Linked DNA regions of Homo sapiens: region 2 is linked to region 1. The links come from fine-mapping of genetic effects on gene expression. A gene starts in region 1. The other region holds a variant in brackets. All regions are shown on one strand. Distances are between the middles of the regions.

Region 1 (5,371 bases):
CTTCCCTTCATTGCATACTTTCACCTTTTTCCTGATTATTTTCCTGCTCTTGGTTCTCTCATCCTAGAAATCCCCCAGAGCTGGAGTCGGGGAAGAGGTGGGTATGGGCCCGGCTTTTCTCCTGCCTCTGCCACCTCTCTTAGGACGTTTCTGAGCTGAGTTTTCTCATCCGTAAGGTGAGGGGTTGGCTGCAATGGCTGACTGGCTGCACTCTGACACCCTGTGGGGAGGGTGCTGACACCAGTACAGACGTCCTGGAGGGCTGTCAGACCACGACATCCTCAGCCTTGTGAGTGGGCATCACCAGTGCTGCTTGCCCAGGATTTAACTTAAAAAGCCCCGGGAGTAAGGGGTCCCTGCATTTACTCCCCGCCTCTCTCCTCCCTCCAACTTGCCTGCTGCACTCCACCTGGGTGGAGGTAGCAGAGGGGGCAGCGCGGGCTTTGGCCTCTTTCTCTCTCTTCCTTCCACAGATCTGATTTTGTTGCTTAACCCCCTTCCTTGTGGTCTGGAAGTCAGGCCATGGCTGGGGTAGTGAATGTGTCCCGGATGTTTGTCCTGCCCAGTCTGTCTGCCTTGCACTTCTGGGAGCCCCAAATTCATTCTTACAGGGAGGAAGGTGGCCATGGGACTCCAGGGGGGAAATGACTGGCCCAGGGTCACATGAGAGCCAAGAGTGGGTTCCCCCATGCTGGACCCCTTGTGTCTGACCCCAAGCCTGAGTCAGGAAAGCCTGGAAAAGTGAGTGGAGGAGGAGGAGCTCGGGGGGCCCTGTTCTCCATTCAGCCCCCACCCAAGAGCTGTGGGCTTCCAGGTGTGTGAGGCTGGGCGCCTGGCACCTGAGCTCCTGCGGTTTGGGTCATAGTCTGAGCCAGAGTGGGAGATTCAGGGTAGGGAGGTGGTGAGGGGCACCCAGGTTTGTCTTATAGGGCACTCTGTTCCCGGCTCTGTGTAATGAGGGGAGGACCCCAAGTCCTTTGGACAGCGCATCCATCTCCTGGCCATAAAGTGTGAGCGTGGAGCTGGGCTGATTTGGGGGTGTCCGGAAGAAGGAAATGAAAGGGACATTTAATGAGGTCCTAGTACGTGCCAAGCATTTTCACACACCTACATTTGATTCAATTTCCACTACAAGTGGACACTGTTATACCTATTTTACAGACACAGAAACTGAGGCTCAGAGAGGTGCCTGGAGACGGAAAAGGGTGGGGAGCGAATCTTTCTGGCGCGCCCTCTGTGCCTCAGTCACCGTGCCAGACGCCTGCCCGCGTTCCCTATCGAAATCCCCCCGCCTCGCCAGCGAGGAAGGCGCGATCGTCCCCGGAACACAGACGGGAGACCGGAGGCTCGGGGACCGCCGGACGACCGCGGCCGGGCGGCCCCTCACACCACCCGGGCGGCTCCCCCGACGGCGCGCGGCGCTCACCTCCAGGCGGTCGATGCGGTCCCGCAGGGCGCGCACGGCGTCCTCCAGCTCCAGAATGAGCGCAGGCGAGTCCCAGGGCCCGTCGGCCATGGTGTCGCGGCGGGGCCCGGCGCCCTGGAGGCCGCGCGGCAGGCCGCTCTCGCAGCGGCCCAGCTTGCCGGTGAGCTCACGGATGGTGTCCTGGTCGGCGCGGATGCGCGCCTCCTGCTGCAGCGCCGTCTGGCGCAGCTGCTCGGCCGTGCTCTGCAGCAGCAGCAGCTCTTCGCGCTCGCCCGGCGCAGCGCCCGCCGCGTCCCCCTGCTGGGCCCCCGACGGGCAGGCAGCAGCCAGCGGCGTGCACAGGAAGCGGCTGAACAGGGGCCCGGGCGGCAGCGGGTGCGCGCTGGCCGCGGGTGCCCCGGGCAGCGCGGGGGGCCCGGCTGAACCGCCCGCGCCGTGCAGCGCGCTCAGGCTCCGCTGCGGGCCCGGGGACGCGGCGGCGCCCGAGGCGACCGAAGCATTGTCGGCGCCGCCGGGCAGCGCCCGCGCCGGGCTGGCCGCCAGGGGCACGCTGGCGATGATGCAGATGACGGCACCGAGGAACGCCAGCATGCCCGCGGCCAGCAGCACGGCCAGGAACTTCAGCGTGAGGCGGGCGGCGGGGGCGCCCGAGGCCCCCGGCAGGCGCGGCGGCGGGGTCGGGGCGCGGAGCCCGGGCGCGCTGGGCCGAGCGGGGCAGGCGCGGGAGCCGGAGCCGGAGCCGGAGCCGGAGCCGGAGCTGGAGCTGTCGCCGCGGCCGCTGCTGCCGCCGCTCTGAGCCCGGGCGGCGGGAGGAGGAGAAGACGGCAGGCGGCGGGGAGGGGGAGCGGGCGCGGCGGCCCCGCCCCACTCGCTTCCCCGGGCCGGCCCTGGCCCCGGCCCAGCCCCGCACCCGTTCAGTGCCGGGCGCCCGGCTGGGGGCGCCGCCGGGGATGCGGCGAGGAGCGAGGGCAGCGCCTGGGACCTTATCTCGCCGCGGTCACAGCGCAGGGGCCGGCGACCCGAGGGCCGCGCGGCGGGGCTCCTGGGTGACCCCCATCCCAGCCCTCCCGTGCTCGGGCCCCCTCCCCAAGCCGGTTATGTTCACATCCACCCGGGAGGGAGCTTTCTTCCGGGTGGGGCTGTGCACTGGGCGCGCCACAAGCTCGGTCGCAATTGAGCCTTGCCGTGGACAGGCTCACAATAGAAATGAGGAAACTGAGACACCTGAGGTCAGGCCTCTGTCCAAGGTCACCGGGTGGCTGCGTTGGAGCCGCCTGCGAGCTTAGGCACGTTTCACCGGACCAGACTGTGGATGGGGCTGGAGTGGGAGCGGTTAGAGGTGGAGAAGAGGCCAGTGTTGGGGGTTGGGGGGAGGCTCGGATTTTGACCTAACTTCTGTTTATACTGTGGCCACCTGCCCGTCACCCCCACCTCCAACCTTCTGAAGGAGCAGAGTTCACTCCCCGCCACCCTCATTACAGAATCTTCCTGTGATCTCAGAGGATGATGGAAATTCTCTCCTCTGAATCCTTGGGGGCTTAGAGCCTCACAGGTCCAGAGAAACCCCCCACCCCCACTGCAGTCTGCCTTCGTTGGCAAGCGGTGCCACGTGCCTGGTGGGCATGTGGACCAGGCCCAGAAGGAACAGCAGGAATGGGAGTGGGCTGTGCTGTGGGGGTGGCAGAGGAGCGTTTTACTTTCTTCTGTCAAAAATGTCTATATATATTTTGTTGAAAATTAACTTTGCAATTAAAAACTTAAAAACAATCCTACTATCCTCCACACTTTATCCCCAGCTCCAATTTTCCATGAGGTCTTTCCTGACCAATACGGATTCCCAGGGCTGGAAGGGCCTTGGGAGGGCTGTGGTTATTCCCAGCTCTGTCTCCCTTCCAAGCCTGCATTTTTGACTTGAAGGGAAAGCGCAAACCAGGATCTCTGGACCACCACGGCTACCACTGTGGTTTCGAGTGTACTTCACATAGCGCTGGTGGTGGGGAGAGACCGGAATGTTTCCCAGGAAGCCACAACCCTGGGGGACGCTCTCCAGCCACGGGGATTTTGTCCAGTGTTCCCAGGCACACGTGCTCCACCTCCCTCTCTCCACACATGTTAGGATGATGTCCACCCTGTTCACCCATCTCTAGGAGCCAGGGATTTTCATCCATACCTGAGTTGTGAAAGAGGAGAGAAGCAAACACAAGCGCTGTATGCCAGGAACCTGAGTGCTGTGTGTGCGTGGATGTGTGCTGGTGCTCACTGAAGTCGTAACCTCAAAACCCAGGGCAGGCAGCTGGGCTTGGAGGAAGCATCTCATGGACAGAGAGATGGGCTGGGCTCTTGGAAGGCAAAGGCCAGCGGTAGGCCCTGCTAAAGTCCTGGGGATGCATGAGACATCGGGACTCCTGGTACATCTACACGTGTGCCGTGAAGACAGAAACACGGAGATAGCATCCCCAGGAGAAACTGTCATAGGAAGTCCAGGGAAGGACAGGAGATGCCAAGAGAGAGGGCTGCTGCCAAGAGCAGCAGAGCCACTGTGACTTGGGCACCAAATGGTGCCACCTTTACCTGAGCTGCCCCCTGAGACTTTGGGGACAGTTTGGATAAATGGGTCCAGAGGCTGGAGTCAAATTGTGTTTAAACTGGTCTGTTGATCTCCTAGAATGACTTTATTTTTTATTTTATTTTATTTTTGAGACAGAGTCTTGCTCTGTCACCCAGGCTGCAGTGCGGTGGCGTGATCTCGGCTCACTGGAACCTCTGCCTTGCGGGTTCAAGCAATTCTCCTGCCTCAGTCTCCCAAGTAGCTGGGACTACAGGTGCACGCCACCACGCCCAGCTAATTTTTGTATTTTTAGTAGAGATGGAGTTTCAATATGTTGGCCAGGCTGGTCTTGAACTCCTGACCTCAGGTGATCCACCTGCCTCGGCCTCCCAAAGTGCTGGGATTACAGGCGTGAGCCATGGCGCCCAGCCTCTCCCTTCTTCCTTGGCCCATCTCTATCCCCAGCATTCAGCATGAAGCCTGCCCAGGGAAGCTTCTCGGTGAATGTTTGCTGAACTAGTTCCTAATGCCACTGCTGGAGGCAGAGGAAGGAGGAGAGGACAGAGAAGTCCCAAAACTCGTCTCTCCTGGGTCCTGGGAGAGACCCCCCTTAATCCTAACACAGGATTCCTCAAGGGATGGGCAGAGAAGTATTCTCAGGGGAACTTCCCTAAAACTGGAATAGTTCCTATATTTTCCCTCTGAATTGTCATGACTCCTAGTTTTTTTTTTTTTAAATTTCTTCACTTTCATTCCATTCTTAGGCCAAGGGAATTCTGCCATATATAACAAATATAGGAATTCATTTTAGAAAATATGTTTTGAGACCTACATTGTGCCAGGCATAGTGCCAAGCATTGGAGAGAGCTGGGAACAAGACAAGCTCACGCAGTTTATATTCCAGTGGGGAGGCAGGCAGTAAACAAATGAATAACTAAGTAAACAAGTTAATTTCCAATAATGATGAGAATGACAAAGAAAAATCTTCAAGTGATGTTATAGAAAGTTACAGGAAGTAGGAAGGGGGAATTGGGAGGTGGGCAGTATTTATAAGGTGGTCAGAAAAGGCCTGCATTGGAGCTCAGACCTAAATGACCTGGGAAACCAGCCATGCAGAAGTCTGGGGAAAGATGGTGTGTTCTAGGCAGAGGGAACCGCTAGTGCAAAGGCCCTGGGGCAGAAAGGAGCGTAATATATTTCAGGAACAGAAGGAACAGAGTGGGGCTAGAGGCAGAGTGAGATGTAGGGGAGGGAGGAAGCTGGACAGGAAGGTGGGGGCCGTGTAGAGATTTACAGGCTCCGGGAAGGGAGTGGGTCTGACTCGAAGCCCAACTGGAGGGCTGAAGCACGGAAGTGATATCACCTGGACTGTGTTTTTAAAAGACCACTCTGGCAGT
Region 2 (5,371 bases), 81 kb before region 1:
CCCCCGACCCCAGTAAAAACTCCCCGGTCTACCCACCTCTCCCTCCTGCAGGGCTGCAGCCCCCAACCCCTGCTCTGGTCTTGGCTTTTTTGTCTGTAGAGCAGGGGGAGTAATTGTCCTGCTCCCTTCCCTGCCAGGTGTCTGTGGAGGCAGAGGAGGTGGGAGGACCCTCTAGGCCTTCAGTTCTCACAGCAGTGTTGCTGTGGGTGTGGCCTGTGTGCTTCCCATGCAGGGACACTCAGCACCCAGCTGTCAGCACTGCAGCCTGTACGCAGTGAGTCACTGAGGGTGGTCCCCAGGGAAGCCGGAGGGCTGGTGGGCCTTGGTTATGGCTGAGGGCATTTGAACCTGGGACCCCAGTTCATTCAGTCCTCCTTTGTGCCCACTGCCCCTCCCCCAGTGCCTCTGTTTCCCTGGGGACGGTGCTTCCCGACAGCCAGAGGGATCCAGGTGTAGGGAGTCTGGGTGGGTGGCCTTGATGGCACATAGCTGCATGTGGGCAGCTGCCCAGCTCGGCTTGACTCGGCTCTGCAGTCAAGCACGTCGGGCGGCACCTCCCAGGGCCCTGTCCATGCACCTGTGCGTCATATGCAGGACGGCCTGCGGCTGCCAGCCCGGGGCCTCAGGGGCTTGAGACGCAGGAAGTGGCTCTGCGGTAGGGCATAGTGGCCAGGAGCTGTGGGCTGGAGAGGGCACCTTGTTGATGCTGAAGGGAGGGACGGTGGGGCAGGATCAACTGAGCCATGGACCAGGGCTGTCCCCTCCCCTCCATGTCCAGGAGAGGCTCACCTCCAGGTGGGTGTGAGAAGGTGAGAGTGTGTGTGAGTGTGAGTGTATGTATGAGAGTGTGTGAATGTGTGTGTGTATGAGTGTGAGTGTGTGTGGGGAGTGTGTGTGAATGTGTGTGCGAGTGTGTGAATATGTATGTGTGTGTGGGGTAGTGTGTGGGAGTGAAAGTGAATGTATGTGTGCATGTATGTGTGCGAGTGTGTGTGAATGTGTGAGAATTGTGTGAATGTGTGAGAATTATGTGTGTGAATGTGTGCATGTTTGTGTGACTGTGTGCAAGTGTGTGTGTATGAGTGTGAGTGTGTGTGGGGAGTGTGTGTGGGGAGTGTGTGTGAATGTGTGTGTGCGAGTGTGTGACTGTGAATGTGTGAGTGTGCGTGTGTGAATGTGTGAGAATTATGTGTGTGAATGTGTGTGCATGTTTGTGTGAATGTGTGAATGTGTATGTGTGTGAATATGTGTGTAAATGTGTGTGCATGTTTGTGTGAATGTGTGTGCAAGTGTGTGTCTGTGTGTGAACTGATGCCTGCTCTGGCGACCTCTCCTCTGTTCCCTGGACTGGCTTCCCGAGCTTGGGCCACACGGGCTCTGAGGGTCCCCTGGGTCATGGTCTTCCCTCTCTTCTTTGAGTCTGGGGTGCTCGGAGCTCCCCTGTTTTCGCCTCCTTTTCTGTGCCCAGGTTCTTTTCTCGGTGACCCCATCCTCCTCTGTTTGATTCTCAACGGCTTGGCTCTTAGGGCCAAGGTGGCTGCGGTGATTTGTAATTCAGGCAATTTCTTAATCTTCTCCTTCTGGCCTCTCCCCAGGCCAGCCCCCACCCCTCCTCAGCTCCCTCAGCGCCAGGTTCCTGCCCCCACCCCATGCCCACCCAAGTCCTGCCCAGGACATGCTTTTTGGATCCTGTGCCCCCCTCTCCCTCCCACAGGCTCAAACCGTTCCCCCTGGGACCCCCTTGGCACAGCCCCGCCTCCTCCTCCAAGACAGACGGGCCTTCTGCCCCCATGGGGCCTCTTGCTACGCTGTCCTCTTCTCCAGTGAGCTTCAATCCCTGAACTTGACTCTGGATGGTTTCTGCAGCTTCCTGGCTGCCCCCTCCCCTCCTCTCCGCTCCAGCCTCCACAAAGCTGCCAGGCGGATGTTCCTGAAGCAGGGGCTGGACCCGGCCACCTGCCTGCAGCCGATCATCCGTGCATGGCTCATCAGCCCCACGGCCAAGTCCATGGCCTGGAGGCCCCCGTGACACGGCCTCTATCTGCCCCTCTGCCTCATGGCCTCCCCTCCCCTCCTTCCCCGCTAACTGTGTAGAAAAGAATGAATGTAGCAGGCTGGAGACAAAGGCCTGCTTG[C/G]AAGGCTGGCCCTGGGCTGGCATCTGGGAAGCTGGATTTTGGGAGGATTCCCACCATTCCCTAAGAAGACCAGCTCACAGTGCCAGAACTGTTTCTACACACAGTGTGTCCACGATGCACGCCGGCTTTCCTTCTGGGGGGCTGGAATTCCGGTACGTGCCAGGCAGAGGGTGCCCATGAACCAGCCCCTGGGCTGAACCCCGGGCACTGAGTCTCTTTTGGGTGTCCCGTGTTGTCACCACTTGTTCTGGAGGAATTGATTACATCCTGGTAACTCCACTGGGTCCGCTGGGGGAAGATTTTTTTTCTTTTTTTTTTTTTTTTTTTCGAGACGGAGTCTCGCTCTGTCTCCCAGGCTAGAGTACAGTGGCCCAATCTCGGCTCACTGCAAGCTCCGCCTCCTGGGTTCACACCATTCTCCTGCCTCAGCCTCCCGAGTAGCTGGGGCTACAGGCGTCTGCCACCACGCCCAGCTAATTTTTTTTTTTTGTATTTTTTGTATTTTTAGTAGAGAGTAGAGACGGGGTTTCACTGTGTTAGCCAGGATGATCTCGATCTCCTGACCTTGTGATCTGCCCACCTCGGCCTCCCAAAGTGTTGGGATTACAGGCGTGAGCCACCGCGTCTGGCCTTTTTTTTTTTTTTTTTTCACCTTTAAGCTCTGTTGGACTTGAGGGGAAAAGATTCTTTTTTCTTTTTTTTTGAGACAGAGTCTCGCTTTGTCGCCCAGGCTGGAGTGCAGTGGTACAATCTTGGCTCACTGCAACCTCCGCCTCACGGGTTCAAGCGATTCTCCTGCCTCAGCCTCCCGAATAGCTGGGATCACAAGCATGTGCCACCACACCCAGCTAATTTTTGTATTTTTAGTACAGACAGGGTTTCGCCATGTCAGCCAGGCTGGTCTCGAACTCCTGACCTTAGTTGATCCACCAGCCTCGGCCTCCCAAAGTGCTGGGATTATAGGCATTAGCCATCGCGCCCAGCCAGTCCAAGGCTTCTTGACCAGGGCAGCTGAGGTGGAGGCTCCCCCACCTTCTCTCATTTTTCATTATTAGCCTCGCGAGCGTGTTATAAACAAAGGCTGATTTTCACGCAGTCTTTGGGGAGTCCTCCTGTCTGTGAAGCAGAGTGACCCTGAAGGTCAAGCTGGCGACAGTGGGCAGGAGGCCTGGCTTGGTCCACGTCCGATGGCAACACTACTCCACCGGACAGGGGTTGGGGACACTCCTCCTTCCACACTCTTGTGCTGGAAAAGATGCCAGGCTGGGCAGCTGGGGAAAGAACCCCAGGCAGCTGAAAAACAATCCCGGCTTTGGCTGTTGGAAACACCCCCAGCTTTTTTTTTTGTTTTGAGACGGAGTCTCGCACTGTCATCCCGGCTGGAGTGCAGTGGCGCAATCTTGGCTCACTGCAACCTCCGCCTCCCAGGTTCAAGTGATTCTCCTGCCTCAGCCTCCGGGGTAGCTGGGATTACAGGCTCCCACCACCACGCCTGGCTAATTTTTTATTTTTATTTTTGTATTTTCAGTACAGACGGGATTTCACTATGTTGGCCAGGCTGGTCTTGAATGCCTGAGCTCGTGATCCACCCACCTCAGCCTCCCAAAGTGCTGGGATTACAGGCGTGAGTCACTGTGCCCGGCCGGAAACACCCCCTGCTTTTTAGTCCTTGGGGTGGACGATGCTGTCCCAACCCTCAGGAAGGACGCTGGGTATCGGGGCCACAGGGATCTCTAACTGAAGCCACCCTGGCCTCAGCCTCAGTGACCCTCTGCCCTGGTGAGAACTAGAAGGGGACTGTCCCTGCAGCAGGATGGCCACCCCGACCCCACCAGCCATGCCTCAGGTGTGGGAGTGGAACCTCGTCCACAGAAGCTGCCCCTTATGCGTTACAGGACCTCATCAGCCACCCACCTCTCAGAGGACAAGAGTGTTTGTGGGGTTACTACGAAGGTTAAATGAAATTATTTTTATTTCAAATGATTTTTAAAAAATCATTTAAAATATTATGACTTGGCTGCGTGTGGTGGCTCATGCCTGTAATCCCACCACTTTGGGAGGTCAAGGTGGGCAGATCACTTGAGGTCAGGAGTTCGAGACCAGCCTGGCCAACATGGTGAAACCCCATCTCTACTAAAAGTACAAAAATTAGCCGGGCGTGGCGGTGGGCGACTGTAATCCAGCTACTCGGGAGGCTGAGGCATGAGAATCACTTGAACCCAGGAGGTGCAGGTTGCAGTGAGCCGAGATCATGCCACTGCACTCCAGCCTGGGCGACAGAGCAAGATTGTGTCTGAAACATAAATAAATAAAATAAAATAAAATAAAATAAAATAAAATAAAATAAAATAAAATAGTATGACTCAATGAATAATCTGTGCCGCACATTTTAGCATCAAGAAGGGGTGGGGCTGAGTATCCCTGGGCCCTCCCCAGGCCTAAGACTCTGAGTCTGTGTCTAAAGTCCTGGGAACCTCACTTGTGGTGGTTCATAGACATCACCAGGTCATGGACGGTGACAGAGGACAGAACACCCCAGGGGAGGCTCTCACCTGCTCTCTCAGCGCTCAGGAGAGACGAAGAGGGGTTTCTGTTCACCTCCAGACACAGGTGCACACACACCCCACACAGACACATACAGAGATACACAAAGACATAGACACACATACATTAGAGACACACAGACACACTTGGATACATCGAAACACACACACACACAGACTCCTGAGGAGCTCTGCTAGGCCTTGGGACCTTGAAGGTTCCTGGAGAAAAGGTAGGAAAGGGGCTCCCCCAGGCCACTTGGGGTAACAGTGGGGGGCTCACCATGTAGCCCTTGCAGCCACTGTCACCCTGGAAGTGCTCAGATTGGGAAAGGCTCTGTCAACCTGGGGAAGGGGCCACAGGGGACTCCAGTGGGGCTCAGTGGGGCTCAGGGGCCACCCAATGAGCTGGGAGTCAGTAGCCCCTGCTCTCATCCAGTGCTCTAGGACAGGCTACAGGTAGGTGGGCTGGTTGCTTGCCAGCCATTCTGACCAACTACTCAAAGCCCAAACCTCTCTGAGCCTCACTGGCCCACAGGTAGAATGAGGAGGTGGCCAGACAGCAGTTTGCCAGAATGTTCCCTAAGATCTGAGGACAGGATCCCTGCCGACTCCCCCTACTTCGACTAGAGCTGTTCTGCTCTGGTTGACACACTGGGGTTCCCTGGGCAAATTGATTTGAAAAAAGGGATTCTG

Evidence for each region. PIP is the estimated chance that this variant, and not a neighbour inherited with it, causes the effect.
Region 2: its variant is the best candidate, but not a certain one, in a credible set for the expression of NPTXR in whole blood (TOPMed, PIP 0.53).

The regions. Positions count from the first base shown.
Region 1 is chr22:38,841,809-38,847,179 of GRCh38, forward strand. NPTXR (neuronal pentraxin receptor) reads right to left here and starts at 2,220. Exons shown (of 5, transcript NM_014293.4): 1 at 1,427-2,220. The coding sequence starts at 2,050. RefSeq lists a silencer at 1,739-1,808.
Region 2 is chr22:38,760,796-38,766,166 of GRCh38, forward strand. No RefSeq gene overlaps it. Among named protein-coding and RNA genes, the nearest start is that of SUN2, 7.5 kb to the left of the region's middle. RefSeq lists enhancers at 1-245, 76-125, 726-775. The variant C/G (reference allele first, on the strand shown) is at 2,136.